Regions from separate parts of the Homo sapiens genome. Here region 2 is linked to region 1. The links come from fine-mapping of genetic effects on gene expression. A gene starts in region 1. The other region holds a variant in brackets. All regions are shown on one strand. Distances are between the middles of the regions. Region 1 holds the start of SNRPD3 (small nuclear ribonucleoprotein D3 polypeptide). Region 2 holds the start of GGT1 (gamma-glutamyltransferase 1).

What was found. PIP is the estimated chance that this variant, and not a neighbour inherited with it, causes the effect. A credible set is the group of variants that fine-mapping cannot tell apart.
Region 2: its variant is the best candidate, but not a certain one, in a credible set for the expression of SNRPD3 in whole blood (TOPMed, PIP 0.60).

What each region holds. Positions count from the first base shown.
Region 1 is chr22:24,548,480-24,564,048 of GRCh38, forward strand. SNRPD3 (small nuclear ribonucleoprotein D3 polypeptide) reads left to right here and starts at 7,520. Exons shown (of 4, transcript NM_004175.5): 1 at 7,520-7,592; 2 at 9,178-9,321. The coding sequence starts at 9,196. GUCD1 (guanylyl cyclase domain containing 1) reads right to left here and starts at 6,659. Exons shown (of 6, transcript NM_001284254.2): 1 at 6,470-6,659; 2 at 438-522. The coding sequence starts at 6,512. RefSeq lists a silencer at 6,408-6,767 and enhancers at 7,228-7,327, 11,050-11,099, 13,434-13,935.
Region 2 is chr22:24,592,736-24,608,304 of GRCh38, forward strand. It overlaps GGT1 (gamma-glutamyltransferase 1), which reads left to right and starts at 10,458. Exons shown (of 16, transcript NM_001288833.2): 1 at 10,458-10,792; 2 at 15,219-15,288. It overlaps LRRC75B (leucine rich repeat containing 75B), which reads right to left and starts at 338. Exons shown (of 4, transcript NM_207644.3): 1 at 128-338. The coding sequence starts at 304. RefSeq lists enhancers at 1-751, 1,801-2,771, 10,341-11,306, 11,307-12,271, 11,679-11,768 and 1 more and a silencer at 236-465. The variant C/A (reference allele first, on the strand shown) is at 7,054.

The sequences.
Region 1 (15,569 bases):
GGTTCCAGGAAGCCAAATGAAAAACTCTTGTACAAGGTGACGGCTACAGTCCCTCTTGGCTCTCACTGTCCAGGTTTCTGTGATATTCACACAGCCTCAGCTTAACGGTCAGCACCCCATTCTCCCAGGAGCCAGAAACTGGGGAGTGGAGGGCCTCCTATCCCAGTCACAGAACTGCCTTGTAGGACAGGCCTGGGCACCTGGGACTTCCTGGCCACCCCAAGCCCCCAGACATTACTATCATGGAGAGCTGGAAGGCCTGGTCCACCCCTTGCTCACTTTTGCAGATGGGACTAGGACCAGGTAGAAGCTTGGCCTCCTGCAAGCCCCAACCAAAGATAGCTACATGGACCATGGATCCCACCCAGGTCTCTCCCAAGCCAGAGCAGAAGATGTAGATGGGAAGCACCTGGGCCCCCAGCCCTGGCCCCACTCACCGCAGCACCATCCTGGAGCAGGCCAGGCCACAGTCCCAGTGGTAGAGCTGCTGGATGACGGGCACAGGCAGTTGCACAAAGTCCCCTGTGCAGAAACAGAGGGAGGTCACAGACCCTCAGCGCAGAGCCCACCACTCCCACCCTCATGGGAGCCAGTGTCACTGCCTCCTGCCTAGACCCTGCAGGGGCTGCTCAGGGACCTTCCCACAATCCTTCAGGAATCCCCTCAAATCCAGGCTCCTATAATAGCAGTGATCTCCCCAAAACACCGGCCAGAGCAGGTCAGCCCAACTGAAAATCCTCCAGTGAGCTGGGTCCCACATTCCTTAAGACAATACCTCCATGGCTGCTGCCCTAGCACCCTCTGCACCCTTGCCTTTGCTTGTCATAATCCCTCACACCCTGGAGGTCTTTGCACACCTGGTTCCTCTGCCTGGACATACCTGGCTTCCCAGGTGCCTGAGCTAACTCCTGCCCTTGGATGTCACTTCTCCAGTATTGCCCCTCTCAGGCCCAGTGACCCACATGTGCATTCACTTCCCACCATGCCTACTCAAAGCCCTTCTTTTGGTGGGAGCTCTGAGGAGGAGGGACAGAGTCTTTTTCTTTTTTTTCAACAGGGTCTTGCTCTGTCGCACAGGCTGGAGTGCAGTGGCATGATCTCGGCTCACTGCAACCTGCGATTCCCGGGTGGCAAGTAATTCTCCTGCCTCAGCCACCCAAGCAGCCTGTAGTCCACAGGCGTGCGCCACCATGCCCAGCTAATTATTGTAATTTTAGTAGAGATGGGGTTTCACCATGTTGTCCATGGTTCCATGGCTGGTCTCGAACTCCTGACCTCAGGTGATCCACCTCAGCCTCCCAAAGTGCTGGGATTACAGGCGTGAGCCATTCCGCCTGGCCAGCAGGGGCTGTTTTGTTTCCTGCTTTCATTCCAGGGCTGGCACATGGGAGGCACTCAGCAGATAATGTATCTGAGTTCATGAGGCCCCTGGAGGTTTGCTTGACTCCAAAGACCCCAGGACCACCAGGGTGTGAGACCATGGCCAGGAGAAGGGAACTGTCACGTAAGCTATGAAGCATATGTAATATTCTTGTGAGCTCCATCCCCCACCAACCCTGGGCGACCTCTCGGTCTGTCTTTGCCAGGCTGTGAGGTGGAGCAGAAAGGGCCTGACCTAGCGTTCCAGTCTCAACTGTGCCACTGCTGGCTGGCTGTGGGCTGGGCAGCTGACTTCCTCTTGCTGGAATGAGTCTGGCCATCCCTAAACAGGGGGACTTTGGTCTGATTCAGTCATTCAGTCAACAAATATTTCCCAAAAGCCTAGTAAGTGCCTGGTGTGTGTACTGGAGATACAGCAGTGAATGACACAAAGTCACTCTCCTGGTGGATAGCAAAAATAAGCAAACATAGCAAAATAGAGGCCTAGGCTGGGGAAAACAGTGGGGGTGTGCCTTAGAGGGGATGGGGGAACAGCATGTGCTAAGGCCCTGAGGTGGGGCAAATGGGCTTGTGGCATGCAGGACCCTCCTCCGTAGCCACCTCATGAACCTGGACAAAGTTCAGAGTCTAAAGAGGAAGAGACTTATCTCTGCTGTTACTCACTCATGACACTCATTCAGCACGTGAAAACCTTGCCCACATTGTTTCCCCATCTGGCAGGTCTCTCCTGGACTGTGTGACCAGCTCTGTGTAGAGCCACCCCAGGAGCCCTCCTGCTGTGCCAGCCCCAGTTCCCCTCACTTCCCTGTGTGCGCCAGCTAAGACGGCCACTCACTAGTCCTGGGATCTGTCCTGGCCTTTCCAACCTACCAGGCTTTGAATCCCAAGTTCCTCCCTTCCTATGTCTGACCTTCCCCAGCCTTCAAGGCCTGGCTCAGAGGCCATTTCCAGGGCCTTCCCTGATCACAGACTGGCTACACCCTTTCACTCATCTGTACTTCTCTGGGCTTGAGTTCACACTTTGCCTCCTAGGATGCGGCCCTTGCATTGAGCTTGTCTGTGCCCTCCTGTGTTGCTTATACGTTCCCAAGAGGCAGGGACCTATCACTGCTCCTGGTGTCTTTCTACTCCATGTGCAGCAGGGCCCATGGAAGGCACAATGGCATGAGCAAAGCAGGCCACCTGCTAGCTAAGTTGCCTGGCCTCTCTGTGCCTGCTTCTTCCTCTGTGAAATGGACTACCAGACGCCAGCCTGCAGGGTGATGTGAACCCTAAGGACAAGAACGTCTATAAAGCCCTTTGCAGGTGCTAATAATGTGAACCTGCCCCCAGCTGGGGCCTGGTATGCTAAGCCCAGGCTGGACTGAGGCCTCATTCTCTTCCTTCCTCTTAACCCAGATGCCTCCAAAAGATACCCAGGCCGTTCACTCAAGGCGCTCACATGTTCCCCTGCTATCACTGCCAAGGATTCAGTGGCACTGACCCCTGCCTGTCCCTGCCCCAAATTCCACTCCCAGCACCTCTCCCACCTCTACATACAGCAGCCGTAGGGATTCCCATTCAGTTTCCCACTGCTCTTGGAATAAGGTTCTCATCCCTTACCGGGGCCCTGCCTAACCTGGCCCGCCAGCCTCATCTTGGCTGCCCTCACCTGTGGTCTAGTTAACCTGTGAACTCATCAAGGCTTCATTCTACCCCAAGGCATCTGCACGTGAGGATCCCTCTGTCTGAAACTCTCTCCCGGCTGCTGTTCTCAAGGTTGTGTCCCTTCTAGTCATTCAGGTCCCAGCTCAAAATCTCTTCTTAGAGGTTTTTCTGACTAAGCCTTTGAGAAACGAGGGAACTCTCCTTCACAGCATCCTATTCGTTTCCTTCACAGTGCTTGGCAAAAGTAACAATAGCATCAAGCCACTCTCTTGAGACGGCAAGCTTCCTGAAGGCAGGTGCTATGGTATCCTCTCCAAAATTTATGTTGAAACTTAATCTCCATTGTGGTGGTATGAAGAAATGGGTGCAGAAGATATCCACAACCAAAAATATAAATAAATAAGAAGTGTGGCCTTTTGTGAAGTCAGGAGGGCTCTGCCCTCATCAGTGAACTAGTGCCTTATAAAAGGGCTGGAGGAAACTAGCATAGGCCATTTTTTTTGCCCTTCTGTTCTTCTGTCATGTAAAAGCAGTGTTCATGCCCTTTCTGTTCCTTCCACCATGTGAGGACACGTAGGTGGCACCATCTACAAGGAACAGGCCTTTACCAGACACAGAACCTGCCAGCGCCTTGATCTTGGACCTCAGAGTCTCCAGAACTGTGAAGAATTAAATTTCTAGAGCTGGGCACAGTGGCACACACCTGTAATCCCAACTACTCACGAGGCCAAGGCAAGAGGAGCCAAGGAGTTTCAGACCAGTTCGAGCAAAATAGTGAGACCTCCATCTCCAAAAAAGAAAAAAAGAAATTAAATTTCTATTGTTTCTAAATTACCCAGTCCCAGGTATTTTGTTATAGAAGCACAAATGAACTGAGACAGCAGGAAACTTGCTGATCTTGTTCACTGTTATTCTCAGTTGCTGGTGTTGAATGTTTAATAGTAACTCAATAAATATTTGCTGGAAGAAATAAACTTTTTTTAGGCCGTGCACAGTGGCTCACGCCTGTAATCCAAGCACTTTGGGAGGCCAAGGCAGGCGGATCACTTGAGGTCAGAAGTTTGAGACCAGCCTGGCCAACATGGTGAAACCCTGTCTCTACTAAAAATACAAACATTAGCCGGGCAGGGGCCAGAGCCTCTTATCCCAGCTACTCGGGAGGCTGAGGCAGGAGGATTGCTTGAACCTGGGAGGCGGAGGTTGCAGTGAGCCAAAATTACGCCACTGCACTACAGCCTGGGCGACAGAGTGAGACTCCATCTCAAAAAAAAAAAAAGGAAAAGGAAAAAAAAGAACTTTTTGTTTTCTTCTGAAACAGGGTCTCACTCTGTCGCCCAGGCTGGAGTGCAGTGGTGTGACCAGAGCTCACTGCAGCCCTGAACTCCCAGGCTCAAGGGATCCTCTGACCTTAGCCTCCTGAGCAGCTGGAACTATGGGCACACGCTACCACACCCAGATAATTAAAAATAAAATAAGCCCTCACTGTTTGCTAGGCTCTGGGGACACAAAGGTAACTAAAGACCCACCCAAGCCCTGACCCCTAGGGACTCATAAAGAGCTGAGCAGTGGGAGAGCTCTATGCAGGATGTTGTGCTGTCACGGTGAATGCCTGCCTGTTCAAGAACCCCTCACAGCAGCCACACACTGCCTTTTTGTTTTTCTCTACTCATACTGTTTCCTCCCCAGCTTTTGCTCTTGCACATCCCTTAGTCTAGGAGTGTCCAATCTTTTGGCTTCCCTGGGCCACACTGGAAGAATTGTCTTGGGCCACACATAAACTACACTATCACTAATGATAGCTGATGAGCCTTAGTCTGAAATGTTAATGTTGTCTCCATGCTCTAATCCCTCTCACTCTCAGGGCCCCTCAATATGGAGTCCTTAAAGAGGCAATGAGAATTCTTCAGTGGCAGATGGGGATGAGGTTGCATTTGCCTCCTTCCAACCCTCAGCCCAGAGTAGGCACTTAGATATGCTTGGGGAATGGAAGGCGTTTTCCAAAAAGACCTCATACCTTGAGATGCCCAGGCCTACTTGTCACTTCCCTGCTCTGCACCCCTCCTCCCCCAGGCTTCCAGACTACAGCCCTCTGTGTGAGGCTCCCTCCTTACTCTGTGGCTTGGGCTGTGACACTGACTAGCTGGGCTATCTTCTGCCAGGCTATGACTGTCCATGCCTTTCCATGTCCAGCTATAAAATGTGGCACAAGACAGCAGCTCTCTCTCAGAGACTCAGCTGCGCCTCCTCCTCTTGCCCTGCGCTCTAGAACTCCTTGATCCTGAGGCCTGGCAGGCCCCACAGGGCCATCTCCAGCCTCGGCAAGGGCGGATCGGACCTAGAGGTGCTCATGTTGGGGGTGATAAGGTTAGGCGAGGCCTTGGCATCTGTCCCCATAACAGCTTTAGCCTTCTAAACACAAAGCCACAGCCAGACGTTGCTGCCTGGAGCCAAAGGGCTGCCTGGAAGGCCCTGGCCTGAGCTCAGTTAGTGGCTGTCACTAAGGAAGGCAAGCAGTGCACTAGCCTTTAATACTTAACCCATCTCAGACTCAGTCTGCTCAGCTGCAAAAGTGCAAATCACAGTGGGCACCTACTTCACTGGTTCGTTATGAGGATTAATGAGGCACTGCATGTAAACAACTGCACGCAGCGCGCGCCTGCCTCATAGAACACTCCCTGTGAATGTAAGCCATTCCTCCTCTGAGGCTCAGGAAAGGCAAGTATCTTGTCTCAGACCACAGGGCTAGACAACTGGAGGAGGAGGGTTGTAAATCCCCCACCAACTCCACACAGCAGACACAAAAGGGAACACTCCCTGGGAGTGACACCTGAAGGTCAGGGTCCCACATGCTGTTGACCTCTTCCACAGTTGGCACTTCACTTCAGAGTTTACTAGCTAGAACTCCGTTTGTCATCAACCCCGCGCCTTCAGCAGGACAGGAATCACGTCTTCCCCCTCCCCTACGTCTTGGGCAAGCAAACTAACGGCCAAGACATTGAATACCAGTCCGGGTCTCCGCCCCAAAGGGGCTCAGGCTACCGCGTGGCAGAGAGAACGAAAGTGAAGAACAAGAGCAAGACAAAACGCCGAGTCTCGGAGGCCAGGGCACTGGCCCTTCCATTGCTCGGTGCTCTCGGCCAGTTTCCTGCCCTTCCCAGCCTCAGTCCTCCACGGTTTCCCAAGGCATGGGAGCTCCCAAGGCGGCTCCAGCAGGACTTTTCGCTTCTGGGGAAGGTGGTGCCCCTGCTACCCGGACCTTCCCACCATGCTGACAAGGGTCGCAATCCTGCGAGTGTCAGGAAACCCCCACTGACTGGAACCAGGCGGGTGTGGGGGCGAGGCGGGAGTCGGCCCAAGGTCGCGCGACTGGACCCTGCCCCGCGCTAGGGAGGGGTCCCTTTCGTTCCTAGGGTGAAGACTGGGCCCACAGAGAGGCACTGACCGGGCTCGAGCGGCGGCCCCGCTGCCTCCGCCTCCGTCCTCATGACCCGGGCGGCGCGGGGCGCCCATGGCCCCGGCCCAGAGCGGGCTACAGCTTCCGCTTCGGCTGGGGCGGGAGGGCGGTCGGTGCGTGTCGAGTTCCTTCTCCGCCACCGCCGCCGCTGCGGAGGAGAGAACGGGAGGCGGCGGCTGGGCCGCCCCAAGCGCCGCCCCAGCCCTTCCAGGTCTCGAATCTGGAGGCCCCGCCCCCTCCTTAGGCCCCGCCCCAAACTTTGATCTTAGAGGTCCCCAGCCTCTTGATTTAAGTCTGCTCCGGCCATTCGCCGCCTCAGCGTTGAGTGGCCCCACCCTCTCGCCCAATCCTCGCGCAGACGCGCAGCTCACCAGGACGCGGGCCCCGGAAGCCCCGCCCCTTTCTTTGAGCCCCGCCCCAAAGCTCGTGCATTTCCTGAATAGAGGCTCGTCCCTTCGGCAAGCCCCGCCTCTGCCGGGTCCCGCTCTTTTGCCAGTCCTAGGTGTAAGCCCTGATCCCGCCCAGTGCATCCCCGAGGCCCCAAGCAACTCTCCTCCAACTGTCTTTAGGGATAACCCTGAGCGGGCAGCCGCTCTACTCTATACCTAACTTTATCCGTACCAGATACCTAGCCTCACTCAGGGCCCCCCTTACCTGGCGGTGCCGGGATCAACAAATGAAATTGTGACGGGAAGTCCTGGCCCTTGGCCCAACCTCCTGCTGTCCCCGGTCTGAGGGCCCAAGCCCCGCGTCTCCGCCTTGCCGTCCAGCCTGTCCTTGGTGTGGGGTGCTTGGAAGTGTGAGCACCCTCTCTGGCTCTTTGCCGGCCCCAAGGGTCGTTGCGGCGGCCCCCGGGCCCAGTCATCAGCCCTCTTTTCCGGTGCCGGAACTATCGTACTGGTGCCCTAGTTTCCCAGCCGGCAGGCGGAGTGAGGAGGAAGCGGAGGCGAGACCGCGCTCAACACTGGGGAAAGGAAGGAGGCGGGCCCTGCGCGCAGCATTTTGGGAAAGAGTGGAATTCTGGGTGTTAGGCCCGCCATTCGCTTGACTCACGCCTTCGCCGTAGCATCTTTCGCAGCGGACCGAAGAGAAGAAAAGTAGGCCAGAGCCGGTGAGGCTGGGGACGGGCGAGGGGAGGTCGAGGCGCCTGTGAGGGGCCAGGGGCTGGAGAAAGACTTGCTGCATGGAACTCTGCGGGGCTCGGGGAGGGAAGAAAGCGGGAAGCTTGGGCCACCCAAACATCAGCGTCGCCTCACTAGCTCCTGGAAGTAAGTTCATTAGCTTTCCCCTCAACGTGCATGCTTCTCACATTCTGTATCTCTCCAGGTGAGTGTTTTTCAAAGCTTCCAGGCAGTAATCTCGAAGTCATTTCTGATTGACTATCTCCTTCCCCCAAATCCTATGAGTTTTTTTTTGTTTTTTTTTTTTTAAGTAGAGACGGGGTTTCACCATGTTGCCCTGGCTGGTCTCGAACTCCTGGGCTCAAGGGATCCACCGGCCTCGGCCTTCCAAAGTGCTGGGATTACAGGCGTGAGCCACCGCGCCCAGCCGGTCATTTTTTAAAAAGTTCTTTGTATCTCTGCCCCAGTCCCCTTTCAGGCAATGGTCCCCTCATGCTTTCCACACTGTTGCAGCAGTTTTAACTGTTGCAGAAGTTTTAACAAGTTTCTCTGCTTCTAAACCTTACGTTCTATCCATTTTGTAAATAAATGCTGCTATCTTTTCATTGCGTCATTCTTTACATATAATTCTGCAGTGGTTCTCCACTACCTTCAGCATAAAATCTAGACTCCTAAGGCTGAAAGCCAGGGATCCTCACCAAAGGAGCCTGTCCTTTCAACCTCATGTTCTCCTGTCTTAGGTACGCTTAAGTTGAAACTTAGAGTTGTTGCTCATCTCAATAAAAAGTTCACTGCTTGATGCTTTTGATTAGGTCAAGTCAGGTGCTTTCCCTGATTTTCCTCCATGACAAGCATTTCCTGCATATAGCACGTTGTCACTTTGATATTTTCTCAATATCCTTGATAGTAAAATAAGTGAAGGGTTAAAGGGCTGAATTAAAAGTACAGCCTGCTCTCCTAGATGTGCATGGTCCTTTGGTCTGTATCTGCACCTTCCATAGGGTAGCCACTAGCTACATGTGGCCGTTGAGGACTTGGAATATGGCCACTGGGATTGAGGGACTGGGTTTTTTTATTTTAATTCTATTGTGTTTTAGTTAAGTTTAATTTAAATAGCTACGTGTGTACATGAGCTGCTGTATTGGACAGCTCGGGCCTGTATTATTCTCAAAACGTAATCATCTACAATTAAGGGTTAACAAATAACAGTGCAACAAATTAACATTCCAGTCCCCCTCCCCTGACACACACAGTATTGGCTAATGGTCCTTTAGCTGAAGATTAAGGGACATAGGGTAGCGGGGACACATGACCCATGGGAGATGCTCTCTTTTCATTCCTAGTTTTACTTCTGTCCATCCCATCATTCCTCCTCACCCCACATCTTGCACATATTTGCCAGATAGTTTCCTCCAAACCAGGAGCTGAGCTTTTTTTTTTTTCCTTGGTAGAAAATGCAGCTTTGGTGTTTTTGCTAAGTTTTATGGAGTGCCAGGCCTTAAAGGAAGCATGATGTGTGCCACATGCCTTTTCAGACTCTGAAAGATGAACTGACTGTTGTCTCTCTCATTGTAGAACTCTCTTCCTGCCAAGATGTCTATTGGTGTGCCGATTAAAGTACTGCATGAGGCCGAGGGCCACATTGTGACATGTGAGACGAACACCGGTGAGGTATATCGGGGGAAGCTCATTGAAGCAGAGGACAACATGAACTGCCAGGTATTCTGCTTTGCATGTGAGGCTGTGTGGGAGGAATGGCCCTGTGTCTTGAAGGACAGAAAAGTGTGTGTTGAGGGTCTCTGGAAATTGTTCTCATTCAGCAGTGATTTCCTAAGTGCCTAATGCATACCAGTCAGGTGCTGTTATAGGCTCTGGGGGTGTGGGCATGAACGAGACACATAATCTTGAGGCAGAAAAGCCATTTGGAGGTTTGGAATATTTTACTTTGTCCTTTTTGTTTTTTCCATCCCCAAATATGGGGGTCTATTTGGGAGAAGTGCTACTTCCTTCAGTAGAATCCTTCAGATTCAGGGCCATTATCCATTTGCCTCCACTTGCTTTGCGATTAGCAGAATCTTCTCACCTACTGTATTTGTTTCCCTTTTCTCTTGGAGGAGGAGTCTCATTTGATTATTGCAACTACCTTGTGAGGTAAGCAGGTTTGGTGATAGTCTTGTCATCCATAAAATAGGGAGAATGAGATTAAAGGGCTCATCACTCTGATGATAAATAATGGAGTAGTTTCCTGATATGGTGTCCTTCTCATGGCACAACTTTGCCTTTTGCATAGTCATCTGAATTTTTATAGCATTGTTTTTCAGTTGTATCTTCACACTTTCTTTGTTCTTTAAACCACTGGTTAAGAACTTGGACTTGGGAGTCAGAGAGAGATGTGGGTTTGAATCCTAATTATATGACTTTAGATGTATTAACCACTCAGTTTTCTCATCTGTAAAATGGGGGTGGTATTATGTTGGGTTCTTTGATGTAGATGCCAAGACAGAATTTTGCAAGGTATTTATTGGGGGAAATGACAATAAAGGATAAAAGAGCAAGGAAGCAGTAGTAGGCAGGGAAATTTTCAGTCTATGGTGCTGGTCTGACTGGTGAAATGAGAGGGGAAAGGAAGGAGGATTGAGCAGGAAGAGCCTTAGACTACAGCGTAGTTTTGAGGAAATCTCAGCAAGGCAGCGATTGCTCGTTAGAAGAGTCTAGCATGGGGCAGAAATGGGCGGACTGGCACCCCCGGTGTGTTCAGGCTGGCAACATGGGGAGAGAGTAGCCTCAAGTTGAATGCCATGGTGGACTGCAAAGATGGAGATTGTCGGCTGCCTGCACTCCTCATAGCCTGTTCTCTTTTGAAGGGAGATGTGAGCAGCACACCCTTAAGACTGCCACAGGGGTAATATCCACACCCCCAGGACTTTTACAAAGATCAGATGAGCTGTATGTGTGCCATAGCTGCTCAGTGCCTCACATACTGTGAGTGTTCAACATATGATACCTATTGCTTTTTTCCAGATGAGAAGGTCAGAGAGGTAAAGCACCTTACACCGCGGTCAGGCATCCTGACCATCCATTGGTTTGCAGGGTTCATTTATTTGTGATTTTTCTGTAGCTTTGAGCGTCTGTCATCTTCCTGCGAGGTTGACAAGCTTGGTCAGTTCCCTGAATGCAGAGAAGTAGACCTCTGGTGACTCAGGTTTATTGCATTACTGTCAATAGATCAGTTTATCTATTGAGGGTAGATAAGTTTATCATCTCTCATATATCCAGTCCTCTGGCTTAAGGCATGCTCATCCACTTTAAGGTTCTTTAATTTGGTGAGGAGAATGCAAGACTTGGGTTAGTGAAGCTTAATGGGTTTGTTCAATTAGCTGTATGTATTTGGACAACTTGCTGGGTTTCCAGGGCCTTTGTCATCCCATCCGTAACGTGAAGGTGTCTAACCAGATAACCTTGGTAGCCATTCAGAGATGCAGTCAACATGACACAAAGTGCACAGACCTTGGTGTCCGACAGACCTGGAATCAGCTTGTAGCCTGCCCCCTAGGGTGACTTGGGGCGAGCTTAGCTTTGGACCTCCTTCATCCTCTGGTCCCTCCTCTAAATCAGGGATAAAAATAGCACCTTGGCCTCAGAAGGAACCATGCCTGACCAATGGTGGGGGACAGCCACCTGCCTCCCTGCTTGTATTTGTATGCTAGTGCTACCATAACAAAGTTTCACAGACTGGGCAGCTTAGACAACACAAATTTATTTTCTCATAGTTCTGAAGGCTGGAAGTCTGAGATCAAGGTGTTGGCAAGGCTGGTTTCTTCTGAGGAATGTGAAGGAAGGATCTGTTTCAGGCCTCTCTCCTTGCTTATATATGGCTCTCTTCCTGTGTCTTCACTTGGTCTTCCCTCTGTAGTGTTTCTGTCCAGATTCTTCTTATAAGGATACCATGCATGTAGGATTAGGGCCCACTCTAATGACTTCATCTTAACATAATTATGTTTATAAAGAATTTTTTTTTTTTTTTTTTTGAGATGGAGCCTTGCTCTGTCACCCAGGCTGCAGTCTTGCTCTGTCACCCAGGCTGGAGTGCAGTGGCGCGATCTTGGCTCACTGCAACCTCTGCCTTCCAGGTTCAAGCGATTCTCCTGCCTCAGCCTCCTGAGTAGCTGGGACTACAGGCATCTGCCACCATGCCCAGCTAATTTTTGTATTTTTATATTTTTAGTAGAGACAGGTTTCACCATATTGGCCAGGCTGGTCTCGAACTCCTGACCTTGTGATCTGCTCGCCTCGACCTCCCAAAGTGCTGGGATTACAGATGTGAGCCACCATGCCCAGCTTGCTTGCTTTTTTTTTTTTTTTTTTTTTTTTTTTTTTTTTTTTTTGAGAGTCTCACTCTGTCGCCCAGGCTGGAGTGCAGTGGCATGATCTCAGCTCACTGCAACCTCTGCCTCCTGGGTTCAAGCACTTCTCATGCCTCAGCCTCCTGAGTAGCTGGGACTATGCCCAGCTAGTTTTTCGTATTTTTAGTAGAGATAGGGTTTCCCCATGTTGCCCAGGCTGGTCTCAAACTCCTGAGTTTGCCTCAGCCTCCCAAGTGCTAGGATTACAGGCGTGAGCCACTGCACCTGGCCTTTTTTTTTTTTTTTTTTTTTTTTTTTTTTGAGACAGAATCTTGCTCTGTTGTCCAGGCTGGAGTACAGTGGCACAATCTCAGCTCACTGCAAACCTCCGTCTTCCCGGGTTTAAGCAACTCTCTTGCCTCAGCCTCCTGAGTAGCTGGGGTTATAGGCATGGGCCACCGTACCCCACTAATGTTAATATTTTTTGTATTTTTAATAGAGATGGAGGCTCATCATGTTGCCCAGGCTGGTCTCTAACTCCTGAGCTGAGGCAATCTGCCCACCTTGGCCTCCCAAAGTGCTAGGATTACAGGCATGAGCCACTGCACCCAGCCTTTTTTTTCTTTTCCTTTTTCTTTTCTTTTTTTTTTTTTTTTTTTTTTTTTGAGATTAAGCTTTGGTCTGTTGACCAGGCTGGGGTGCAGTGGTTTGATCATAGCTCATGGGCAGCCTTGGACTTCTGGGCTCAAGAGATCTTTTCACCTCAGTCTTCTAAGTATCCAGGACTACCAGTGTGCCCCACCATACCTGGCTAATTTTTAAATTTTTTTGTAGAGACGGAGTCTTGATATGTTTTTCAGGCCAGTTTCAAACTCCTGGCCACAAGTGATCCTGCTGCCTCAGTCTCTCAAACTCCTGGAATTACAGGCATGAGCCACCACATCTGGCCTGTAAAGATTTTTTGTCTCTAAATATGATCACATTCTGAGGTGCTGGGTATTAGGACTTCAACAATGAATTTTTTTGAGGGATACAATTTAGCCTGTAACAGGATGTAGAGGCCTCACTGGGTCTATCAAAACCTAGGCACATTGAATAAGAGCCAGCAGACTGTGGCGTAGCTAAAGCTGGTGGTGGGTGAACTCTGAGCACAGTTTAGTTTGTTCAGCACATCTCAGGCTGTGAGGCTTGCCTGTCCTTCCCAGATCCAGTCATTCTGCCTTTTGGGAATGAGAACATCCTCTTAGCACTTTTCCTTGCTTGTTCAATAACATTTTCTGTTATAAAAGTGGGGTGGGACAAAATGTGGTGGCTACTCCTATAATCCCAACACTTTGAGAGGCTGAGGCAGGAGGATCACTTGAGCCCAGGGGTTCAAGACCAACCTGGGCAACATGACAAGACTTTGTCTGTAAAAAAAATAAAATAGACGGATGTGGTGGCACATGCCTGTAGTCCCAGCCATTCAGGTGGAGGCTGAGTTGGGACGATTACTTGAGCCCAGGAAGTCAAGGCTGCAGTGAGCTATGGAGTGCCACTGCACTCCAGCCTGGGCGACGGAGTGAGACCTAGTCTCACACACACACAAAAGCACACCACAACGATTCGGAAAAGATAAATAGAGGATCTCACTCTGTTGCCCAGGCTAGTCTTGCACTCCTGGACTTAAGCGATCCTCCCACCTTGGCCTCCCAAAGTATTGGAATTACAGGCCTAAGCCACACCTGCCCTGTTTTGGGGTTTTAGTATTTACTTTTTATTCTATCCTCTTTCAGAAATAGTTAGACCCTGTCTCTTCTGAAAAGCAAAAAAGTTTAAAAATTATCTGGATGTGGGGCTGGGCACTGTGGCTCACGCCTGTAATCCCAGCACTTTGGGAGGCTGAGGCGGGCAGATCACGAGGTCAGGAGATTGAGACCAGCCTGGCTAACACGGTGAAACCCTGTCTCTACTAAAAAAAATACAAAAAATTAGCCAGGTGTGGTGGCGGGCGCCTGTAGTCCCAGCTACTCGGGAGGCTGAGGCAGGAGAATGGCGTGAACCCAGGAGGCAGAGCTTGCAATGAGCCAAGATCGCGCCACTGCACTCCAGCCTGGGCGACAGAGCAAGACTCCATCTCCAAAAATAAAAAATATATTATCTGGATGTGATGGCTTATGCCTGTAGTCCCAGCTACTCCATAGGCTGAGGCAAAAAGGATCACTTGAGCCCACCCAGCAGTTCAGGCTGCATTAAGCTCTGGTCGCACCACTGCACTCCAGCCTGGGTGACAGAGCAAGACCCTATCTCTAAAATTAAAAAAATTCTATGGCAGGATAAAAGTAGATGCATAGATCATGGTGCAGGTAAGCTGGGGTAGAATGTAAAATGAAGCCAAGCAGTCAGTATCCAGAAATGTAAACCTGAATCTCTCTGTACATTGAATAAAGGTATATTCCAGTGTAAGATTAAGCAGGGAAGATCATCAGTTCCAAAATGCATAGTGTTCTTAAGTTAAAATAGCAATTGTGTGGATTTCCCTGGCACTCAGATACAGGAGACACTATTAGATGATATCCTCGACAACATCCCCATACAAAATACCCTTTTATGGTCCCTCAAGTAGTTTTAAAGTATCCTGTTATCTTAGCACTGTTTTTGACATTTGAAAATGCAAAATATGGCCAGGCACATTGGCTCATGCCTGTAATCCCAGCACTTTGGGAGGCTGGGCCAGGGGGATCACTTGATCCCAAGAGTTTGGGACCACCCTGGGCAACACAGTGAGACCCTGTCTCATATATGTGTGTGTGTGTGTGTGTGTGTGTGTGTGTGTGTGTATGTGTGTATGTATGTATATATGTATGTATATATATGTGTGTGTGTGTGTATATATATATATATTTTTTTTTTTAAAGGAAGAAGAGGAAATATGTGTATGTGAAACTCAGGATGAGGTCCCTGAAATGGTGCTTATCGGGTCAGAGGGTGTGCATCTGAGGTTAAGCTGGGAAGGCAGGGAGCTTTTGTTCTCCTTCTCATTCCGACAGCTGCAAGCCAAGCACTGGTGGCCAGTGCTGCAGGATAGGGCATCAGCTGCAGGATATGGCATGTTGGTCAAAATGCTGTTGGCATAAGTGAGAAAAATAACAATACTCCAAAATATGTCCCCAGTTTTATAAAAATGGACCCAAATTATAAATGATACAAGCAAATACAGAGAGTAATGGTCAAACCCATTTCACTACATTCAAAATGACTTAATTCTTAGAAGTTTTGGTGGGAGAATGTGGTGTAGAGCTCTGCACAAGCAGACATTGTGCTTTTGGGGCTTCAACATGACCACCCAATCACTGATGGGACTGTTTGAAATCTGTTTTGTTGGCTTTGGCATATAATAGCCATCTTTGGAAAACTGGTCTCTGTATGGAATATGGTCTTGTGTCACTGTATAAAAATGAGAACCCAAAAGAAGCTCTCACATGATTGGGTCAGAAAATTGCCCATAACTATTGCTAGGAAAGTTTTTGAAATCTCTGAATTCAATGTAATTGAATTTCTTTAGACACCTAGCCCTCTAGGTTGAAGGAAAACCAGTTTTTTAAACTTATCGTATACTTTTTTTTTCCTGTACTGTTTGTGTGT
Region 2 (15,569 bases), 44 kb after region 1:
GAGACCAGCTCCGCCTCGCCTCCCGGCGGATACAGGCCCACAACCCATAGCCCCGCGCCTCCCAGACCCCCAGACCCCCAGACCCTCCCTGGCCGCCAGCCCAGGGGCGGACGGCTCCTTCTCTCGCCTGGCGCAGGAGGCGCAGCAGCTGCCGGGCGCGCTCCGGCCGCCGCTCGCGGAGCGTGGACTGGATCTCGCGGAGCCACCGCACCCGGCGCTCGTAGGGCGCGGGCCCGCAGCCGGCCGCCGCCCCGGCCTCAGAGCCAGCCTCGGGCCCGGCCCGCCGGCCCAGCCGCGCCCCCATGGCCGCCGCGCGATGGTCGCCGAACCCACAGGAGGCCGGGCTGTCTGCGCCCCGCTCCCGGGGCCGCCCCTAGTCGCCCCGCCTCCAATCACCGCGGCCCTGCCCCGTCCGGGTCCGAAGGCTGAGCGCCCGCCCCACCCCGCGCCGGAGCGAGGCCAGTGGGTTCCTCGGTTTGGCCTGATCACACTGGAGGAGGCCCTGCTTGCGTCAGTCTTGGCGCTAGAACCCGAGGGCCTGGAGCCGCCAGGGGAGACGCGGAGCTCGGCCGAGACGAGGTGGCTTTTGGCACCTCTTTACCCTCTGGCCCCAGTGCTGACTGGGGAATAGTCGCTTTGACCGTGCAAAGAGCATTCTAGGCGGGGTGGGGGGGTTCTGCTGTGTGTGCCAGTGTTAGGTATTGCCCCCATTGCTTTTAGAAATATGCCCTGCATGGTGAATCTCCGTCTCTACTAAAATACAAAAATTAGGCCGGGCATGGTGGCTCACGCCTGTAATCCCAGCACTTTGGGGGGCCGAGGCAGGCGGAATCTAAGGTCAGGAGTTCAAGACTAGCCTGGCTAACATGGTGAAACCACATTTTTATTGAAAATACAAAAAATTAGCCGGGCGTGGTGGCGGGCGCCTGTAATCCCAGCTATTCGGGAGGTTGAGGTAGGAGAATCAATTGAACCTGGGAGGCGGAGGTTACAGTGAGCCGAGATGGCGCCACCGCACTCTACCCTGGGTGACAGAGCAAAACTCTGTCTCAAAAAAAAAAAAAAGAAAAGAAAAGAAATCTCTGCAGCTGGCAGTTGTGGTGTAGGACCTGCTCACGCTACATGGACACTCCTGCACTGGCAAATATTTACTGCCTCCTGCTTCTTGGTTTGGGGCAGGCCCCCACCTCTGACCCCAGCCTGGGAAATAAACCGGACGAAGAGTCAGGTTAACCGTTAAGCCCAGCTCTGGGCAAGCTGGCAGCAGGCGGGCTGTATCTGCCGCTGGCTTCAGTCTGCCTCCCTGACAAGGGGTGGGGGTGGCGGCAGGCAGAGTGAGATGGGGGCCCTGGCTCCTCTGAGGACCAGGGTGAGGTACGGACCCACCCAGCTCAAGGTGTATCCCACTTCCCAGGGCTCCCTCAGCAGAAGCCTAGGTCTCTGCTGCAGGCCTGCTGGGCCCCTGCAGCCCCAATCCCGGCTCTGGGACGCTCACATCTCCTGCGTGGGGAACGTTTGAGGCACTGATCTGCAGTTCCCACTTCTCTAAGCAAGGAGCACGTGTTTAGCCTGTGAGGACTGGTACCTGTTGTGCAGGAAGGGCTGAGCACTGTCCGAGGGCATATATGAGGGACGACAGCCAAGCACCCGTGTGTATGTGTGTGTGTGTGTGTGTGTGTGTGTGTGTGTGTCTGCTAATTACCCTATGAAGATTCAAGGTTCCTTCCTTTGGGTTAAGCACTGCCTGCCCAGAGATGGCAGTGGGGAGAGGGCAGGGTGCTAGGCTCTGTCATCCTGTGGGGCTGGGCCCCTGAGACAAGGCAGAGGACAGCAGGATGTCTTAGCCCCTTGACCATCCACGGACCCCCAACCCCTGCTGGAGCAGTGCTTGCACCCCCTTCTCCCCTGGCACCTGCCAGCTGGACCCAACAGCCTCTCCTCCCACTCCAGTGCAGCCAGCATTGTCCTGGGGCCACCTTGGCACCACAGGTTTCCTCCCTGGCAAACCTGCATGACGGCCTTGCGTGCCCTCCCCCAGGGCCAAGGCGCTGTTGCTGAACTGAAGTGGCAACCTACCCGGTCAGAGCTTTAAGCTGCAGCTCTGATGCCCCAGGGACCTCTCAGACCCCCCTGCCCAGAGCAGGCAGCCCGGTAAGCCCTCCTCCTCTTCCCCTGCAGCCTCAGGGCTGGAGCCACAGCTGGGAGGGCTCCCAGATCCTGACCATATCCTCCCAGAGGCTGAGCCAGGCCTGGGCACTGTCCCCTCAAATGTGAGAATACTGGGCAGGGGGAGGGGAGAAAGGAGGGAATGGAGGGCTGAGCCTGGAGGCATGAAAGGGGCAACCTAGGCAGCGGTATGGGGGAGTGCTCAGAGCTTAGAGTCCTGTGGAAGGCAGAGAACTGCCCCAGCCCCTGCCTCTCATCCCCCACCCTCTGTGTCCCTGGCCGAGAGGTTCCTGGAGGACATTTTTCCAGCAAAAGAGGGAGGGTGGTGTCTGGGCCTAGATCCTTGGATGGGCTTTTCTCTGCCTGCTTGTGGGGTGCCTAGGGCGAGTGGGCTTTTGGAGACAATTTCTGGCCTAACCTGACTTGGACAGCAGCCCCCAGAGGCACAGCTCTCCCCTCAGGCATGGGGGCATGATTCCACCTCGCTAGCCCACATGTGTTCTTCACGGAGGGCTGCTGGCCCGTCTCCCTGGGGTTACCCTGAGCAGCAGAGCTGTGTTTGTTGAGACTCCATGGGGTGGAGGGATTGCGATGTTGTCCTCTCAGTTCCCGGGGCTGATGTGGAAGCTCAAGGGCTTGCCCTGGATTCTTCAGGGTAGCCCTGCCATCCCTAGTGAGTCAGTGAGTTGGGAGGTTGGGGGCTGGAGAATCAGGTAGGGAGGACACAGCTAGACCTCAGGCCCTGATGGGAACGTACTAGGCTCCAAGTGGGACCTGCCAGGAGACAAGAATTGATGACAGCCACACCTTTGGAGTCTCAAGCCCTCTGCCACCCATGCGGTGGCCTAGTTCAAATGACAGGAACACAAGGTCCAGCTGGCCCAATGGGCAGGTAGAGGGCTGCAGCCAGGGCTGGAACTGGCCTTGCACTGCCTCTGGGCCCTTCTCTACCCACCCAGTAGTATTGTTCAAGCCCAGGAGGGAAAAAGGCCAGCTCAGGGTTAATGTTACCTCAGCAAGTAGCTGAGTGGCACTGAGCCTCCTGGTAGCCACTGTAAAGAAGGACACAGAATGGTTTGGGGGCATTCGCTAGGAGGAAGGAAGCAGATGGATACTCTATGGAGACAGAATGTCCTCTGTGTTTGCTCTACAGGAACGGGTTGTCAACCTTCTGCAGGGCCAGGAATTGTCATGAGGCTGTAGTAGGCAGCAGAGCTTGGCGGGGTGAGGCGAGATCACAGGTATAGGCTCAGGGCCTGGATTCAAATCCCCTGGGCTGCCACTTGTTGGATGTGTAACCATAGGCAGAGTAAGGACCTGCCATAGCAAATTACCACAAACTCAGTGGCTTAAAGCAACAGAATAGTTCTGGAGGCTAAAAGTCTGAAATCCAAGTATAGGCCAAGCCACACTCCCTTTGAGGACTCCAGGGGAAGATCCTTCCTTGTCTCTTCAGCTTCTGGTGGCTCCTGGCAATCCTTGGCCTTCCTTGGCTGCTGCTGCATCACTCCAGTCTCTGAAACCATCTACCCTATGTGTCTGTGTGGCCTTCACATGGCATTCCTTATTTTTGCAGTGGGGTCTCACTATGTTGCCCAGGCTGGTCTTGAACTCCTGGGTCCAAGCAGTCCTCCTGCTTCAGCCTCCCAAGTAGCTGGGATTATGAGTGAGTGCCACCATGCCCGGCTCACATGGCCTCCTTGTAATAACGCTAGTGCCTGGGTGCGGTGGCTCACGCCTGTAATCCCAGCACTTTTGGAGGCTGCGGTGGACGGACCATGAGGTCAGGAAATTGAGGCCATCCTGTCCAACATGGTGAAACCCTGTCTCTACTAAAATACAAAAAAAAAAAAAAAAAAAAATTAGCCTGGTGTGGTGACACATGCCTGTAGTCCCAGCTACTTGGGAGGCTGAGACAGGGGAATCGCTTGAACCCGGGACGCAGAAGTTGCAGTGAGCTGAGATTGCGTGGTGACTTCACTCCAGCCTGGTGACAGAGCGAGACTCTGTCTCAAAAAAAAAAAAAAAAAAAAAAGAACTGAAGCTACTGGATTTAGGGCTCATTCATTCTTTTTTTAATTTTAATTTTTTTTTTTTTTTGAGACAGTCTCACTCTGTTAGCCCAGGCTGGAGTGCAATGGCATGATCTTGGCTCACTGCAACCTCCACCTCCCAGGTTCAAGCGATTCTCCTGCCTCAGCCTTCCAAGTAGCTGGGATTACAGGTGCCCGCCACCACGCCCAGCTAATTTTTGTATTTTTAGTAGAGACAGCGTTTCACCATATTGGTCAGGCTGGTCTTGAACTCCTGACCTCAGGTGATCCACCCCTGTCAGCCTCCCAGTGTTGGGATTACAGGCGTGAGCCACTGTGCCCAACAGGGCTCATTCATTCTAATCCCGTATGATCTCATCTTAACTAATTACTTATGTAGAGACTCTATTTCCAAATAAGGTCGTGTGAGGAAAAACCAACTCAAACTGTGTTTTTTGGCCTGGCGTGGTGGCTCACACCTATAATTCCAGCACTTTGGGGAGGCTAAGGTGGGCGGATCACTTGAGGCTAGGAGTTTGAGACCAGCCTGGCCAACATAGCAAAACCCCATCTTCACTAAAAAATACAAAACAAAAATTAGCTGGGTATGGTGGCATGTGCCAGTAGTCCCAGCTACTCAGGAGGCTGAGGCAGGAGAATCGCTTGAACCTAGGAGGCGGAGGTTTCAGTGAGCCGAGATAGCACCACGGCATTCCAGCCTGGGTGACAGAGTGAGACTCCATCTCAAAAACACACACACACACACACACACAAAACAACTGTGTTTCGCCTCTGTTCTCACAAGACAATAATCATCACAGAAGACTTCTTGTAACCAAATTTGTGGATTCTCCCACACACCCAGCAAGAATCAATTCTGCAGCAGACTCCAGCTGGTGTCTTCCAATTCAACTCAATTCTGGTGCTGTCTACCTGGAGATGGCCTCAGAAACCACAGGTTGAGGGCTTGGTCCCACAAGACCAACCCCCATCCCACCAGTCACAAGTCTGGGCATTGGGAACATCTGACTAACTGGCTTCTAGTTGGGGTTCCAAGGCCCCCTCTTTGGGTTCAATTAATTTGCTAGAGTAGCTCACACAACTCAGGGAGACCTGTTTATCGGTTTATTTCAAAGGATGTTTTATTTTATTTTCTCCTCAGACATACTTTATCATCCCTTAAAGTCAGTAGCTCAAAGGAAACTTTAAAAGCTATAAATAGGCCGGGCACGGTGGCTCACGCCTGTAATCCCAGCACTTTGGGAGGTCGAGGCAGGTGGATCACTTGAGGTCAGGAGTTGGAGACCAGCCTGGCCAACATGGTGAAACTCCATCTCTACTAAAAGTACAAAATAAGCTGGGTGTGGTGGCAGGAGCCTGTAATCCCAGCTACTTGGGAGGCTGAGGCAGGAGAATCATCGGTTGAACCCGAGGGGTGCAAGTTGCAGTGAGCCAAGATCACACCTCTGCACTCTAGCATGGGCAACAGAGCGAGACTGAGACTCCGTCTCAAAAAAAAAAAAAAAAAAAAAGATAAAGGCTACAAATAAACAGTCAGATGAAGAGATACATAGGGTAAAGACTGGAAGACTCCTAAGTACAGAAGTTTCTGTCCTGGTAGAGCTGGACACATGGATGAGTTGGTTTTTTTTGTTGTTGCCCAGGCTGGAGTACAGTGGCACTATCTCAGCTCACTGCAGCCTCTGCCTCCCGTGCTCAAGTGATCCTCCCCCCTCAGCCTCCCAAGTAGCTGGGACCACAGGCATGTGCCACTATGCCCAGCTAACTTTTTTATTTTTGTAGAGATGGGGTCTCTCTATTTTGCCCAGGCTGGTCGTGAACTCCTGGGCTCAAGCCATCCACCCACCTCGCCCTCCCAAAGCGCTGGGATTATAGGCATGAGCCACTGCACCTGGCCATGGATGAGTTCTTGTTCCCCTTCCTGTCAGCCTCCACATGAAACTCCCCAAACCCTGTCCTCTTGGGCCTTTTTTAAAAAAATTAATTAAGAAATTAAAGACAGGGTCTCTCTATGTTTCCCAGGCTGCTCTTGAACTCCTAGTCTCAAGTGATCCACCCACCTCGTCCTCCCATAGTGCTGGGATTACAAGATTAGAGATGCCAGCTGTCAGGTGGCTAGGTGGATTCAGTGTAAAGTCCTAGAAGATGCATTTTAGTAAAAACAGCTAGCCACCTGACAGCTGGCATCCATCCATTCAGTGAAGATTGTTGGGCACTGTGGATACTGTGGAGGAGGCAGCAGTCGCAGCCGGCCTGCAGAGTGAGATGCAGTGCCAGAGGGCTTCAGGAGGAGGTGGCATTGTGATTGATGTCTGAAGAGTGTCTCCATGATAATGGAGTCAGTGCAAAGTCCCAAAGACTGGGAAGGAGCAAGAGGAAAGGATAGCTCATATCCAGCTGCCCCACTCCAAAAAAAAAAAAAAAAAGAGGAAAGGACGGGCACCAGCAAGGTAGGACAAGGGGGGCCTCTGGAGTGTTTTCTTCTCAGTTGGGGAGGGGTGTGCTCAGATTTGCATGCCAAGTGCCTGGGCTGCAGTAGGGAAACAGCAGAGGGGCTGGGACCTGTGATTGGGAGTCTCCAGGTGAGAGGGTTGGCCTATGGGGACTGGAGGTCAGGTGAGGCTGGTAGTGGGTTATAGAGGTGGGAGCAGCTGGACAGGCCCAGTGAGGATGCAGGGGTAGCTGCCCAGGGCTAGACTCTGGCTGCTCTGGTGGCAGTTGCTTAGCTCAGGCTTGGGCACGTCCACCTGGCGCATCTGAAACATTAGCCAGCAGGGCGCAGACTCGTCAGTGAGAGCATTCCTGAGCCCAGCATCCAAGAAGCGAGGGAGGT[C/A]GGGAAGGTGCTGCTATGAGGCAGGGGGAGGTCCCCAAAAGTCCAGGTGAGAGCATGGCATGCGTGGAAAGTGCTGCGCAGTTTTGGCATCAGTGAAGTCACAGGGGGCTGTGGGTGAACAGGTGTGCTTGGGCATGTCACCAGGGAGGCCTTGAGACAGGAGCGGGTTGGCTTTCCTGGAGATCAGGCTGTGGCATGGTGTCGGGACTGGGGCATGGACAGTCTTCCTCCACCCCCATCCCCTCCTTGGAGCTTTCAGACACTGCAGATAATTACCAGGTGATGTGATAAATACTACCTGTGGAGGGTGCCTTGGGCAGGGAGGACAGGGCGGCCAGGAGGGGGGCCCTTTGGGCCCCTGCTCTGAGCTGCTCATCAGGAAAGGGGAGAAGCTCCTACAGGCCTGGTGTTGGAGCCTAGCCAGACCCTGTGAGGCCTTGAAAGTAGGAGGTGCATTGTCTGTGCATTGTCATCTCAAGGAATCCACCCAGCAACTGTTCTAGTTATCCCTGCTCTCTAGGTAGGAGACTGAGGCTAGGAAGGGAAAGGCTGCTGTGATACCCACACTATCAGTGGCTGGGGTTGAGTTTAAACCCAGGGACTCTAGGGCCCATGCCTCTGCCATCCTGCCTCTGAGTTTTGGAGCTGGACTTGTTCCATCAAGTGCCAGGCCAGCCCTGCTGCTGGGTGCTCCCAGGCATTCACAAGCTGACAATTCTGAAGGGCCCACGCACTTGGCCATGCTTCAGTCTGTGTCCTGACATCACAGGTGGGTGCTGGAATAACAAATGCTACAAATGGCACTGGGGGTGTTGGCCAGGCTCTGGGGGCACAGGAGTTCTGCCCATGCCCACAGCTGGCCTGTGCTGACCTCCCTCCATCACAGCTGAGTAGCACCAGCACTTCCATTGAGCTGAAGTCTTCCTCCCATTCCTTCAGTGTGGTCTTTGTGGCTCAGAGAGGCTGTGGCCAGGTACAGGATCTGGAGTGGCCCCTGCTTCTCTGCTCTGTGACCTTAGACAGTGGGCAGGATCTGAGGCCAGGCCCACCTGCAGCAGGTGTTACAAAGAGGCAAATTGGCGCTTAATGTTGGTAAGAACTTGCCAGCCAACCAGAGTCCCACTATCTTTGGAGGTAGTGAGCTCCCCATTGGGGAAGGTATGTAAGCCAACCTTTCTGGGATGCTGGAAGATCAGAGAGCAAACACTTGAGATTCTGTGATCCTAATATTGAATCCAATGCTATGATGTTTGGATTTGAAGTCAGTTCTATTTAGCCAGTTTACCAAGTGTCTCCTTGGTGCAGGACACCAGGAGACACAAAATGTCCTGGATAATATTGGGTTTCTGGCTCCCAGGGGTCCCTGAGATGTTGTTCCAGCGGTTCTGGAGTATGGGCCAGGCACCGCTTGCATCTGGACCGATCCGCATTGTTCGATCATTGTGAGCCTCATGATGGCAGTTCGGGATGTCATGCCCCCATGCGCCCCCCAACCCCACCCCGCCATGGCCCTCACCATGGCCCACTCAGGGCATGAGGCTTTCTGGGTGATTGCTGGTATTCAGTGTTGTCAGCTTCTTGGACCTGTCAGTGGGGGTGGGGCTGCAATGAGATGCCAGTTGCAGGAAGTGGTTTGCACAGCCTTCCTGGTGTCATGGGTCACTCTCTTGCCGAGTGGCTTTGGGCAGGTCCCTTCCCCTCTCAGGCTGCAGGTTCCTATGCCAGGAGCTCCCTTCTTGCCCCACCAGGGCCTTGTTTTCCCAGATACAGAGGTGGGGCAGATCCCAGCCCGTTGAAACAGACTGGGCTTTGGAGGCCACAGTGGGCCCATTTCTCAGAGGGACTGTGTGGCTGGATGCTGAGCCAGGCACTGGACTGGCCCTTTGAGCCTCCTGTCTGGCCAAGGCCCCTGAGGCACTGTGGGCTGCTGGTGCCAGCACACAAGGGTGATAAGGAGATGAAAGTCACTAGGATGGTGGGGCGGCACCCGCCCCGGGCTGTGTTGGCAGCTGCCCCTGGCTGGAGGCCAGCTTGGCCCTGGAACCCTCCTCAAGGAACAAGGACACAAAAGAGCCAGCTCAGCCAGCCTCTACCTAGCACCCCAATCAGCACTCCCTTCTTCCCATGACCCCTACCCTCTGCCCAGCTCCTGTAACTGGCCAAGGAGCTAATGGACACCCACCAGGGTCTTAATGAGTGAGCCAGGGTTAATGGGTTACTGGGCCCGGTGACACATTCACCAGCCTCCCAGGGCTCTCAAAGTCCACACTGGCCTGGCCTTGAACGTCTTAGCTCGGCCACCTCCTTTTCCAGCTTTGACACCTCGGGGCTCAGGACGGGCCTAGGGTGGTCAAGAGGTCCCCTGCAGCCCTCACTTCCTGGAAAAGGCTCCATTTCCTGGCCTTCAGGCTCAGGTGGTTCCTTCCGCCTGGCAGGTCCTCCCCAAATCCAATCCCAGCTCGGGCTGGATTCCCAAGGCCCCTATTCTGGTGTCTGCCCCTTCCCTAGGGCTCTTCCCCCTGGGGTGACCATACTCTCATGCCCAGCCAGGTCAGGGCTCCTTGAGAGAAGAATCTGGAGGGGCCAGGATTTGATGGGAGAATGAATGATGGAATGAAAGAAGGAACGTAAGCGTGAGCCTTGCTAAGAGTGACAATACTGGCAGGCTGCAGACCATGTGTGGACCTCGATCTGAGGGCTTAGAGGCTTCGGCCTGCCAGCGCTGTGGGGGCACCCACCCCATCTCATTGAATGGGGCAGAGCAGGTGAGGGCATGAGATGGACAGATGGGCCTCATCCCCCTGCTTCCGTTGCCTGGGGTCCTCGGTCAGCCTGTTTGCTCAGACCCCTGAAATTGGGGGTCAAGGAAGGACCCTCCTGGATTATGTGACTCCCTTCAGTCCAGGTGACCAGGGTCCTTGGAGTGACAGCTCCTAGAGCCCCACCTGTAGTCCTGCAAGCTGGGGAGAGGGCCTGTTAGGAGAGGCATCCCCTGCCCTGGGGTTGTAGAGGTGAACTAGGCTCCTCAGACCTTGTGGGGCCTCAGATGCTTACATCTCCAGCCCCTCCTGGCGTGGGCATCTGGCTGCAGCCCAGCTCTGTGGCCCCATCTCCCAGGGAACCTTTGGTCTAATCTGCCTCCCGCTGAAACCCAGCCTCATTCAGCCCCACCGAGGCTTTCAGAGTTCAGGTCTCTCATTCAGGGTTTGAGACCCCACCGGGCTCAGAGACACCTGCAGCCTGCAGCGGTCCCAGATCACAGCCTCAGGGATGGGACCAGGAGCCAGCCCACATCCCACCTGCAGCAGTTCCTGTGCCTTTAAAGCCTCCCCTCCCCCCGCCCCGCCCCCAGGCCACTAGGGGAGGGAAGGAGGAGCTGGGTCACAGCAGGGAATCTTAGCTTGGTTTTGGTGTGCTGCTGGATGACCAGACCGGGCGTCGGGTGAGCCCAGAAGTGAGAGCAGTTGGCTGTGCCCCAGTGCTGTGTGACCCAGAGGCGCCGCTCACCCTCTCTGAGCTGGTGGACATCATAGGTGGGGAAGCTCAGGTCAGGGCACTCCCATGAGTGTCTGGAGGCCTGAGTCCCATTCTCAGCTCTGCCATATGCTTGCTGCGCTCTAGAGGAGTTCCTCTTCCTCTCCAAGCCTCGGTTTATGTACCCGTGCAGTGGGAGTGAGTTGCACTTCGGGGTGAAGGGGGCAAGACTTGTGTGGGCGCATCCTGCAGAAGGATCCCACAGGTGGGCAGAGCCCTGGGTTCTTTATCCGACTGGGTCTGGGCTGGGGGCCTCTGTTTCTTGGCTGATGAGTTTATGTGAGTTTGAGTGAGGTATGCGAGTGGGTGAAGGAGGGCTGGGGGGAGTCACCTGACTTGTGCGAAGAAGCTCTTGAGAGAGCCGTGGCTTCTTGGAATTAAGAGGAAAGAGTGCAGCATGAACAGACAGGCCCTGGAGGATCTGGCAGCCCTGAGTGGGGGCGGGGGGTCAGCTCTGGAGTAGAGCCAGAGCTGTGATGGGGTTGGGGGACCCTGTGTCCTTGGGCCATGCTTGCCTCGCTCCTGGGTTCTGTTTGTGGCTGTGGATTGGGGTGGGGCAGGGCCGGTTGTGCGAGGGGTCATTGCCCAACTCCAGGGGGCGCCTGCCACCTCTCAGCTATATATATAGGGATATATATAGTTCTTTCGACAGGTTTCCAGCAGGTAGTGGTTATTAAATCTTACTGAAGGGGTGTTTTTTCTGATTCTCGGCTCTGTGCCGCAAGGGTGGAAACTGTGAGAGACAGATTCCAACTCCACGTCTGGGTAGTAAGCATCCAGTCCAGGGCTGTAGGCAGTCCTGGGGAAGACGCCAGAGATCTGTGCATTCTCATATCGAGGGATAGCGACTCCAGGCTGGGGGCTGGCAGGGTAAGGGGTGGGTGGGTCCTGGGCTTACCCGCAGGTCTGCAGACTTCCTGGGGCCAGCTGACCTCGTAAAATCCCTTTTGTCTAAGCTTCAGTTTCCTGCCTGTGAATGGGGTTGGGGCTGTGCTCTGGTTTCACCCTTGTGGCTCTGGGGTTGTGGTGACAAAGCCATCAAGCTGGGTTGAAGGATTAACCAGGAAACTTCAGACTGGCTGCCGTGTCTACCTCTTCCTCATACTCCTCTCTCTGCTGCATCCTGGGAAGCTGCTCTGCTCAGCCTAAATGAGGCTCAGTTGTGTGTGTGCGCACGTGCTTGCACGTGTGTTGGAAGTGGGTGATACTGACACCAGAGTCTGTGTCTCTGGGTGAGTGAGGCTTGCACATTTCTCGGGACAGGGAACTCACTACCTTATGTGCCCAGGACAAGAGCTGTGGGGTCTGGAGAAGACTTCTAGGCCAGCCCCTGCAGTCCTTCCTCAGGTGACATGGCTTCCCCAGACCCACTTCCCCCTAGGTGCCCTCTCTGCATTCAGGGGGTAGAGGGCTGACTGGGACAGAATGTGACACACTCAGCATGTGAGGAAAAGCCTCCTTCATTCTGTAGGCCCTACCTCTATTAACATGTCCTTTGATAAAGTGCCTCCCCTCCTGTCTCCCCTCTCTGGAATCCTCAGCTGCTGCCAGGCTTCAGCTGTGCCCCATTGAAGGCAGCTCTGTCTCCCTACTTTCCCCAGCCCAGGGTTTTCCTTTTGGGGTCAGCTGCAGGGATCTGGGCCATCCTTTGCCCACTCAGACTTTCTTTCTGCCCACCTGCTGCTGTGAATCCTGTATGTCATATATATATATAAAATATGTAATATATTATATATTATATGTAATATATAATATATAAAGTATATTATATAATATGTATTATATTATATATTATATAATATGTAATATATTATATAATATATAATATGTATTATATTATATATTATATAATATGTAATATATTATATAATATATAATATGTATTATATTATATATTATATAATATGTATTATATTATATATTATATAATATGTATTATATATTATATAATATGTATTATATATTATATAATATGTATTATATATTATATAATATGTATTATATATTATATAATATGTATTATATATTATATAATATGTATTATATATTATATAATATTATAATATGTATTATATATTATATAATATTATATAATATGTATTATATATTATATAACAATATATAATGTGTATTATATATAATATAATATTATATAATGTGTATTATATATTATATAATATTATATAATGTGTATTATATATTATATAATATTATATAATGTGTATTATATATTATATAATATTATATAATGTGTATTATATATATAATATTATATAATGTGTATTATATATATAATATTATATAATGTGTATTATATATATAATATTATATAATGTGTATTATATATTTAATATTATATAATGTGTATTATATATTTAATATTATATAATGTGTATTATATATTATATAATATTATATAATGTGTATTATATATTATATAATATTATATAATGTGTATTATATATTATATAATATATGATGTGTATTATATATTATATATTATATGATGTGTATTATATATTATATAATATATGATGTGTATTATATATTATATAATATATGATGTGTATTATATATTATATAATATTATATGATGTGTATTATATATTATATATAATATATAATATTATATATAATATATTACATATAATATATCATATATTATATTTATATAATTTATATAATATATCATATATTATATTTATATAATTTATATAATATATCATATATTATATTTATATAATTTATATAATATATCATATATTATATTTATATAATTTATATAATATATCATATAAATATATTATATATAGTATTATATATATAAAATTATACTTTAAGTTCTAGGGTACATGTGCACAACGTACAGGTTTGTTACATATGTATACATGTGCCATGTTGGTGTGCTGCACCCATTAACTTGTCATTTACATTAGGTATATCTCCTAATGCTATCCCTCCCCGTTCCCCTCACCCCACAACAGGCCCCAGTGTGTGATGTTCCCCTTCCTGTGTCCAAGTGTTCTCATTGTTTAATTCCAACCTATGAGTGAGAACATGCATGTCTTATATGCTCTCAGGCAGAGAGGAAACTGCTGAGCAGGCCGGGGCAGGGGACAGAGCCCTGTGGCTCTCCACTTTAGACCCCTCCTGGCTGACTGCCATGGAATGCAGCCACTTAGCAGGGCCAAATCCCCTGATGTTCCTGTTGGCTGTCTAGCCTTCAGGGACAGGTCATGGGACCTTGGTTCCTGCCCTGTCATCTTCCCAGTCACCCTGATCTTCACGGGGAGGAATAGCCTGGGAAAGGACTTGGTCACAGCACCTCCACCCTAGGGCTATTGAGGATCTCACAGTTGTGTGTCTGGTGGGTTCTGTCCAGAGCCCATTTGAGAGCAGTGGATGACAGGACAGGCCTATGTGACCCAGGCAGGCAGCAATATTGGGTCAGCCTTCATGTCCCCTTCTGTCAGCTGGGGCAGCCTGGAAGCATGATTGTGGGGTAGGTGTTATGGGCACGGAATAGACCTCAGGTGGAGGCTGCAGGGGCTCTCCGGCACCGTAGACACAGCAGGCCCAGGAGCAGGGGAGGGAGCCATGACTCAGGGAGACTCTGGCCCATATCCTTGGCAGATGAGGGCCACAGGGGAATGGGCAGCACTGTCCAAAGTCCCCTGGGCTGGGTCCGCAGCTGTTCCTGGCTCAGACTTCTTGGTGGGCTGGTCAGAAACATGCAGTAACTTGGGGCAGTTACCAGGTGGCCAAGCCTGCACTGCTGGGCTCTGTGAGCTTGGGCCAGCTCAGGCCCTCTCTGGGCCCTGCCTTTCTGGGCTGTTCGGGTGGTTCCTTGGGCCTGGGGTGCTAATGTTTCTGGATGGGCAGCAGAACCAGTCTGCACTCAGGGCCCCAGGCCATGTTCCCGGAACACACCTTTAGCATTGACAGCAGCGTGTGGTGAGGCCCCTTAGGCTGGGTTCTGGTCTAGTGCCAGGGGCACCACTACTCCACCGCCTCCAGAGCCATCTCTGGGACACTGGCTGTGAGTTCAGATGTTCTGAACAGGGACAGGGAGAGCCAGAGGGAACCAGCCTGGGGCTCACTGGAGGGGCTCGTGGGCAGACAGCGCCCTTTGGAGGGAACTGAGTCTGAAAGGAAGGAAACCCTTTCCCCGGCTCATAGCACCTGCCATCCAGGGCCCTCCCAGGGCTGCGTGAACTTTAGTCACGTGGTGACAGGCCGAGTCACCATGCCAAGTCACTGTGCGCCTCCTTGCTGCTGTGACGTCAGCTTCCCCATCCTCCCAGCCAGGCTGGACCTCCGTGAGAGGCCTGCCTGTCCTGCACCCTGTGCAGATGCCTCCCACTGTCCGCCGGGGCTGCTGGGCACGCCCTGGCTGGTCTCTTGGACTAGGTAAGCTCATGAGTCCTCTGGCCGCTCCTGCTCCTTCCCTGCCTCTGCTCCTCCTCGGAGGTGGCCACCCCCAGATCCCAGTCCCAATTCGGAGGCCCCCTGAGGAGTGCTGCAGGGGGCCACAGGCGTGGCTCTGAGCCACTCTGGAGAGTGGCGGGGGGCCCAGCCAGTTCTGTGGCTGGGACTTTCCCAGGCAGACAAGTCTGTCTCTTCCTCCCCAGCGGGTGCAGCCCAGAACTGTCTTCTGAGGAAGAGGTGCTCTCCTGGGCCCCCACTGTCCCCAGGCCTCAGGTAAGCCCATCAGGGTCCCAAGGAAGGGGGTCTGGGTTTGAGGCCAACCATGGCAGCTGACCTACTTTCTAGCCTCAGTTTCCCCTAGTGTGTGCAGCTCTCACGCTGTTTGGGTGAGAACCAGGCCTCTGGGCTTGGACATTCTTTCAGTGAGTTTTTAGGGTGGAGGGATGGGAAATGGAAGCCCAGGACCTCAGCAGGGTGTCTTCCTCCGATCCGGGGACATCTGCCTGTGGGAGGCTGGGCCCACCCTCCCTTGCTGACCTGCCCTGGGAGGAAGG